Linked DNA regions of Homo sapiens. The protein of the gene in region 1 interacts with the protein of each later gene in a biochemical or structural test. Each region holds a gene or a part of one and is shown in the gene's direction. Other genes may lie near its edges.

What was found.
Region 2: the proteins of OFD1 (region 1) and RUVBL1 form a complex in vitro, tested with the Homo sapiens proteins (one study listed by BioGRID).

Annotation. Positions count from the first base shown.
Region 1 is NC_000023.11:13,762,226-13,766,042, forward strand, and holds part of OFD1 (centriole and centriolar satellite protein OFD1), read left to right. Parts: intron 1-118; coding exon 119-219; intron 220-1,490; coding exon of another isoform or gene 1,491-1,492; exon of another isoform or gene 1,493-1,519; coding exon 1,520-1,630; exon of another isoform or gene 1,631-1,634; intron 1,635-3,817. UniProt on the Homo sapiens protein: Component of the centrioles controlling mother and daughter centrioles length. Recruits to the centriole IFT88 and centriole distal appendage-specific proteins including CEP164. Involved in the biogenesis of the cilium, a centriole-associated function.
Region 2 is NC_000003.12:128,099,732-128,103,548, reverse strand, and holds part of RUVBL1 (ruvB-like 1), read left to right. Parts: intron 1-1,900; coding exon 1,901-1,990; intron 1,991-2,804; coding exon 2,805-2,954; intron 2,955-3,817. UniProt on the Homo sapiens protein: Possesses single-stranded DNA-stimulated ATPase and ATP-dependent DNA helicase (3' to 5') activity; hexamerization is thought to be critical for ATP hydrolysis and adjacent subunits in the ring-like structure contribute to the ATPase activity.

The DNA of each region.
Region 1 (3,817 bases):
GACAAAGAGAAAGGGAATTTTGTAGAGCCTTTTCTTGAGTCACAAAAGGCTTTTTGTCACCTTGTACTCTTTGGTTTTCCATTATTGAAACTTCACGAGTTTTATCCTTCCAATCTAGTCTTTATCGAAGACAAACTGAACTTCAAGACAAAAGTGAATTTTCAGATGTGGACAAGCTAGCTTTTAAGGATAATGAGGAGTTTGAATCATCTTTTGAATGTAAGTTCAAATATAAATACCAGTTTTTATATGTTGAAAATCTAGAAAGCTTAGTTTTGGTGAAACGTATCCATTGGTTTAAAAAGAAAAGCAGTTACAAATTGGGTCATTATTATTTTGTGATACAACCACAAGTACAGATGTATCACCTCATTTTTCTACCATGATGATTTTCATGTGTGTGTTTACTTTTTAAAAATTTCAGTATGACTAATAATTTCAGAGTTTGAGCTAAGCTTATAAATGAATTATTAACTTATCAGATTTTAAATAAGTGATTTTTATTTATTTTTTCCTTTGATGGAATACAAGAATGTTTATTTTTATTTTTTTGAGATGGAGTCTCTCTCTGTTGCCCAGGCTGGAGTACAGTGGTCCGATCTTGGCTCACTGCAATCTCCCTCCTCCTCCCAGGTCCAAGTGATTCATCTGCCTCAGCCTCCCGAGTAGCTGGGACCAACCACAGGTGCATGCCATCACACCCAGCTAGTTTTTTTGTATTTTTAGTAGAGATGGGGTTTCACCATATTGGCCAGGCTGGTCTTGAGCTCCTGACCTCAAGTGATCCGCCTGCATCGGCCTCCCAAAATGCTGGGATAACAGGCATGAGCCACTGCGCCCGGCCTAAGGATGTTATTTTTTAAATATACTGATTCAGTTGATTGCCTCAGATTTAGAAAACCTCATTTTTAGTAAAAGAATAGAGATAAAAGAATATTAAGAGTCCAGAAACTGGTGTCCTGGCTATGGCCCTGCCTTAGACTGTCTTACTTTGTAGCCACTTTGTAAGTGTAAAATAAGCATGTAGAGCCTATCATCTCTAAGGTTCTTTCCAGCTTGAGAAATCTTTATATTTGCATATAAGCTATTGGTTAGCCTTGTAAACTTCATCTTCAAATCTGAAAGTGTTAATATTTTGAACAGTTAAATGAGAGGGCTTGGTAAATTTTGTAAATATTTGTTAAAGTCTTTGTGTTAAATCATTGATATTTTAATAGAATTCAAATGATGATCAGCAAGCCAATTGAATTCTTCACTGTCACTGGGTTGATTTTCCTGTTGGGTAACGAATCTCATTTTGTAAACAAAGTTAATTCTTTCAACTACGAGAACACTCTGACAAGCAAATACGTTGCCAAGTGGTTATGTTGGGAACTTCATAGAATCCTGTTAGGAAAGGGCGCACCCAGTTACTTTGGCTTCAGTTCCCGTGCTCCAGTCAGTTGCCCCCACACTGCACTGCCCTTCTTTGTCTTGGTGTTATTATTAAGGACTCATGGGACAATTGTGCCTCATGCAGCTGCAGGGAACATGCCAAGGCAGTTGGAAATGGGCGGGCTTTCTCCTGCCGGGGATATGTCTCATGTGGACGCTGCTGCAGCTGCTGTGCCCCTCTCATATCAGCACCCAAGTAAGTTCTTTTTTTGAACTAACAGTCAGCAGGGTCGCATACTAAATACCAGTCCGTGTGCTCTGTGAATTATTTCATGTATCACTGAAGTCATCTTGTAGGTGTAAATTAGTCAAAATCTTGGGTTGGGGGTTATAGGTGTCATTATATTGTTAATGACATTTCTGAAGTAATTCCCATGTGAACATGTAAAGACAGTGCTGAGAAAGGACACGTTGGAAGGAAAGGCTTCTCATTTAGGCTTCCCAGGCCAGTTGCTTAAAAAGTGTTTTCATTTACTCTTCAGTGCCTGGCATAGTAGTTGGACTTTTCCCCAAGACTCTTCTGCAAAAACTGTTCCTTGGGAACCTTAAAGTTTGGGAAATCACAGTGAAAAATTGAAATAATAATTAACTCCCAGCATATATCTTTAATATGATTGTAACATTTAAATATTATTTATTTTTCTATCTACTTGTTTCCTTTGTGTCTTAAGAAATTAGGACAGAAAAACTTCGTATTTCAATCTTTGGAAAAGCTGTGACACCGAGTTAGCGTAGCACTGGAGGAAAACTGGCCATCAGACTTCTCTTCTCTGGCCCACTTCCTCTTTTTCCTCTTCTCCTCCAGATTACCCACTTCCCTCCCTGCGGGTGGAGGGAGACGGGAAGAGAGCCGTGGGAGCTTTGTGCTTTGTTCCAGGGCTCAGCCAACAGCCAGGTCCTTTTCTTCTTGGACCAAGTGTTTAATCCTCAAATCTGAAAGGAATTTTCTCAAGTAAAGCCACCTCTTAGTCCCTCCCAAACGTTGGAAAAACATCATACCCAAAACCCCTGTTAGCAGTTTCTTGGTTTTAGTCATGGTACCCAGGAACATATAAAATAACTGAAAGAGGCAAGAGATTTTGAGAGGGTTGATGTTGCTGATTCCAGAGTAAATCTGCTTTGGAAAGCATTCAGTGAGACATGATCTAGAGCCTTGTCTCTGCTGGGCACTTTGCTCAGCGCTGAGCATATAGCTCAAGCCCTCGCCTTCCTGGATTTCTAGCAGGGGAGGCAGATGGTCAGCAGGCCATCACCCAGGACCGCAGCAGGGAGGGGCTGCAGCAGCTGAGTAGGGGCCGTGGCCACAAGAGGGAGTGTCTACAGGCACTCATTTGGCACAGACCTGAGCGAGGGAATACAAATAATGTGATAGGATAAGGGAAATCAACTGAGTAACTAGGTGTTCTGCTGCTGAGATGGAACATAGATTATAATATTTGCTTTAAAAATTATTAAGCAGCATGGCGAGTGACATTTTAGTTATTGAGAAATTGTTATATTTGTCATTTCATCTCTTCATCTGGGCACAAAGGGAATTCAAAAAGGTTGAAATTTGGTGTCTCGGAGGTGCCCCGTGGACATGCTTCCTTCCTTTCCCCTTGTGTCCAAGAGATTTCTGTATACCACCCTGCAGCTACAAAATATACACCAGAGTAGAGAAGCAGCTCACTCTTCCTCTTTATTTTGTAATTGGTGCTTAAACAACATTCCTATTTTGAGATTACTATTCCATATAAGAAAGCAATCTTGTTTAGGAGTAACTATTTTTTCTTCTCTAGCAAGGAGGAAGTTGCATTTCTGCCTGTGGAAATGATCAGCTGTCTCCTCTGGTATTTTAATTTCATGAGAAGGATTCAGAAGAGATGGGGGAGAGAGAGAAGAAACTGTGTTGCTTCTCTCCTATTAGTAAAACTCAGTTCCTGCTGATCACTTTAGAACAAGGCACAGCAAAAAGGTTCAAAGTCCTCTGCTGAACCTATGAATTTTTCTACTTATTAGCATTGCTTGGGTTGAAAAAAAAAATGTAGGTTATGGGTCAGAGCCAGAAGAGAAAGGTCAGCATAATTGTCTCTGGGATTGGGGTCTAATTAAAACTTTTGAGATATAGGGACCTGTGCCAAGATGCAGAGGGAACAGACAAGTAATTAAAGTATGGACCTTGCCTGGAAGGAATAGAAGTGGAAGAAACAAGTACATGTAGTTTTTGACAGATCAGGTACAAGATATCCTGCAAGTGAGATGCTGGAGTGGTTAGTTGTCACTTCAGGAATAAGGAGGAGGTGGCATTTCAGTTGGGTCTTGAATAGCATTTCAGACTTTGTGAGAGCAAGGGAGTGCTACAGGCTGAGGAGACAGTGAAGGTGAATGTCAAGCAAGGAAGATA
Region 2 (3,817 bases), on another chromosome or scaffold:
TATTCTGTTCTACGATTTTATGGTTCTTTGATTCTCTGAGGTTGTTTCTTGGTCACTGCTTTATGGAGATCATAAAAATGTCACTTCTTCAAAGGGCCATTTTTCTTTTTCCTAACAGGGTTTCCATCTCAGGAACTTGCCTCTGCAAATATCTCTTTTATACCTACCCCTCGTCACTTCCATTCTGAATTAATTAGATTTCTCAGTAGCATCTGCCACCTTTCCAGTAATTACATCTTCAGTCAATTCATTTGGGAAATTAACCGATATAAAAATGCTTGAGGCAAAAAAGAAGTATATTCTCCAATGTAGGACAGATAAAATAAGGCGTACAGTTTAAATTTCAGCTATTTGTAACACTGCTTTGTACAGTTTCTTTACAAAAATAATGTAGAGGAGAAGATGAAATTTTTCTTCCAAAATGAATACTTTTAGGTATTTTTAGAATATGTACAAGATATTTGGATAGAAGGTGCTCAAATACTTGGTGGATATTCAAGTCTGAAGGAGTCTTCTGAGTTCTAGCAACGAGAATGCCATTAGTACTCATGACCCCTTCCTGCCAGGCCTTACCTGGGGGCCTCACCCACTTTTGTCCTTAGGCGCACAGACTCACAGCAGTTCTGCCAGGGTCTGCCGTCCCCACCCAGCTAAGGAGAGGCAGAACCCTGGGTTTGCTGCTGTGGTGGTAGTTTTTTAAAAGCTTTATTCAGATAGCATTTTAAATAAAACTCACCCATTTTAAGTATACAATTCCAGGAATTTTAATTTATTTTCACAGTTGTACAATCACCACAATCTTAATTTCAGAACATTTTCATCGCCCCAAAAAGAATCCTCCTACTCATTTACAGTCATTCCCCATTCCAACTATAGCCCTCGGCAACTACTAATCTACTTTCGGTTGCCTTCTTTTGGACATTTCATATAAATGGAACATACAGTGTATGTCTTTTTTTGTATCTGGCTTCTTTCACCAAGTCCTGGGTTTTCACTTTTTAATTTTGTTTGGGCAAAGCCCAAGTTTTTTTTCCACCATAGCTACATTGTATAACATAGATCTCCATGAAGACCTCGAGAAACTTGTGTTTAACTATAGAATCCTTACAAAGGCAGCTGTCCTAGAATATTAATCACTGAGGGTCACCAGAATCTGGAGAAAAGCAACAGTTCCGCAAATCTGCTTATTTCCTTTCCTGGAGATATAAGCAGGCAGACCCAAGGGCACAAACACTGGGATGTGAGTCAAAAGGCTTGGGAAAGATTCTCATTTATGTTTTTCTTTGAATTACTGTATACATCTGTGATTGCACCTGGGTGCTGTTGTATAGATGAGGAAACTTAGAACTGAGAACCTTATCCAAAATCAAAGGCCCTGCAAGATGCCAGCTTTGAGATTGGTAAGCAGGTGCTGGCAGGTACTTCAGTTGTGGAAAGTTCCACCCCACCTGAGGTGAGGCAAATGAAGGAGTGAAGTAGGGATGATGATTTCAAGAGGGGTGATAGGGCCTGTGGTCCTGTGGACAGTGGGGGCTGGGCCCACCCGTCTCACGGCAGCCAGGACCATCCTTATAAAAGCGCTGCTGCCAGTTTACAGCCTTTGGAATCAAGGGAAAGAGGAGAGTACGTGTCCCCTGTGTCCCTCTCATGCTCGTTACATAGGGATGCAGGTATGCTGGCCCCCCTATTTTCTCCCTGGTGTGCTTAGTCCCCCAGCCAGTCTGTTGTGTGGTACTTATGCATTCACACTCCTGCAGGTCCCAGTATTCATGCAAACGCAAAACAGGCTTTCTCCATGCACCTGCTAGCTACCTCAGATCCCTTACGGAAAGGTACCTTACATGGTGTCAGAAGGAAATGGAATATGTATTACACTTCTGATTTACATTTTTTTTTTTAGCTGGACCCCAGCATTTTTGAAAGTTTGCAGAAAGAGCGAGTAGAAGCTGGAGATGTGATTTACATTGAAGCCAACAGTGGGGCCGTGAAGGTAATGCCTTCCTTGGGACACAGCATTGTCCCTGATTTGTTTGCCATGAGAAGACCTAAGTGACAAGGGAGTTGCTTTCTTCAGAGGGTGTGGGGTGTGTGGGGAGGGGCTGGTGTCTGTTATGAGGCTGATGGAAGGTCAACTAGTGGCCCTTTATGTATAATAAAGTTTGCCTTCCCTTTATCTTCATTCTTTAACCTTCTCGCGATTAAAACAGATAGTCTGTTAGAAAAAATACTAAAACCTGTTCAGAGGGGGAGGACAGGGTGAGAAACCAAAACAACTTTAGTCACTTTCAAATTGAAATGTGCAGTGTATTTAATCTTCCTTTTATCTCTTTGGTATTTTCTTCCCAAGATATATGCATGTGGGAAGGAACGCTGCATTCGTTGGCATTCTTTTCTATCTGATTTTCAGGGTCCTGTACAGTGTTCCTCACTGTTTAATGGATGGGCATAATACTTCATATCATACAATAAATCATCCACCTACAAAAGAGTCTGAGCAGCTCCTCTGCCTCCAGTTAATCTACTGGATTTGGCCTTTATCAGGAATTGCATACAGTTAAAAGAAAGAAGGGAAAAAGGATTTTGGGAGAAAGTATCAGGTGTTTTTCAACCCAGTTTTTGGAGCCCAGCGATGAGCAGATAGCTCCCTTCTCTTGGCAGCAGGGGAGTGGGGCATATTTGGAGTTTGTCAAGTAGGCTGTCAGGCCTGCAGTGGGAACTGAGACCTTTATCTCACTTAGCCCTGTGCCATTTGGGGACTTGGCAGTGAAAACTTACCAGGCACTCATGTTTCTCTCTTTTTGCAGAGGCAGGGCAGGTGTGATACCTATGCCACAGAATTCGACCTTGAAGCTGAAGAGTATGTCCCCTTGCCAAAAGGGGATGTGCACAAAAAGAAAGAAATCATCCAAGATGTGACCTTGCATGACTTGGATGTGGCTAATGCGCGGCCCCAGGTACTGCCTCGATGCCTGGGTGATCTGGCACATTAGCCCTTTTGTATGTGTGTGGAGATCTGGGAATGAATTGTCAGAGTCTTGCTGCCTTTCTTGAGGTAGACGGTCCTTTTCTATCTGTAATGTTCAGCAATTAACATCGACATGAGCTACGAGGGACTCCTTTGTTCCCATTCAAATGCTCTAGTCACAGATGATTTCATGTGTATTGTTTCTTATCCCAGCCAAGCCTCTGGCCCTGAGCTAGCCAGCTTCCTCCATGGCTTCACTCCAGCAGTGGGCTCACACCTGGGATTTTCTGGGTGTTAATGGCAGGAGGGCAGGAGTGTTCTATGAGCCCTTTACAGGATTTCAGAAAGCCTAACAAAGCTCTTTCTTTCCCCCTGCTTAGCAAAAGCCACAGTGTTTTAGCTTTGAGCTGGTACTGTTGTCTGCTTCTCATACAGATGGATACTTATGCCTTGGCTAGTAAAGTGCAGGAAAGGATGTTATCACTATATGACATTTCTAGGAAATAGTGAATAGTCACTATTAGGGAATAGTTTGTTTTCTGACTTGAAATTTGATCCGTGGGTGTTTTGTTCCTTGGAGCTTTGGTCAAGAGATTACTGAAGACTCATCTTGGACCAACAGGTCCCCTTGGTTGGTGAAATGGCCATCCCCAAACTGACCTCCTGGGAGCCCTTGACCTGAGAAGAGTGCTGGGCTGGGAGTCAGAAGTCAGGAACTGTGTTGCTCCATCACTGACCAGCTTGGTTAATTTGTCACTTTGGGTCTCTGGGTTTTCTGTGGTTTGGGGTTCGGTTTTGAGTTCCCTCCTACTTGGCAAGGCAGTTTTGAGGACCAGACAGGAAACATTTGCT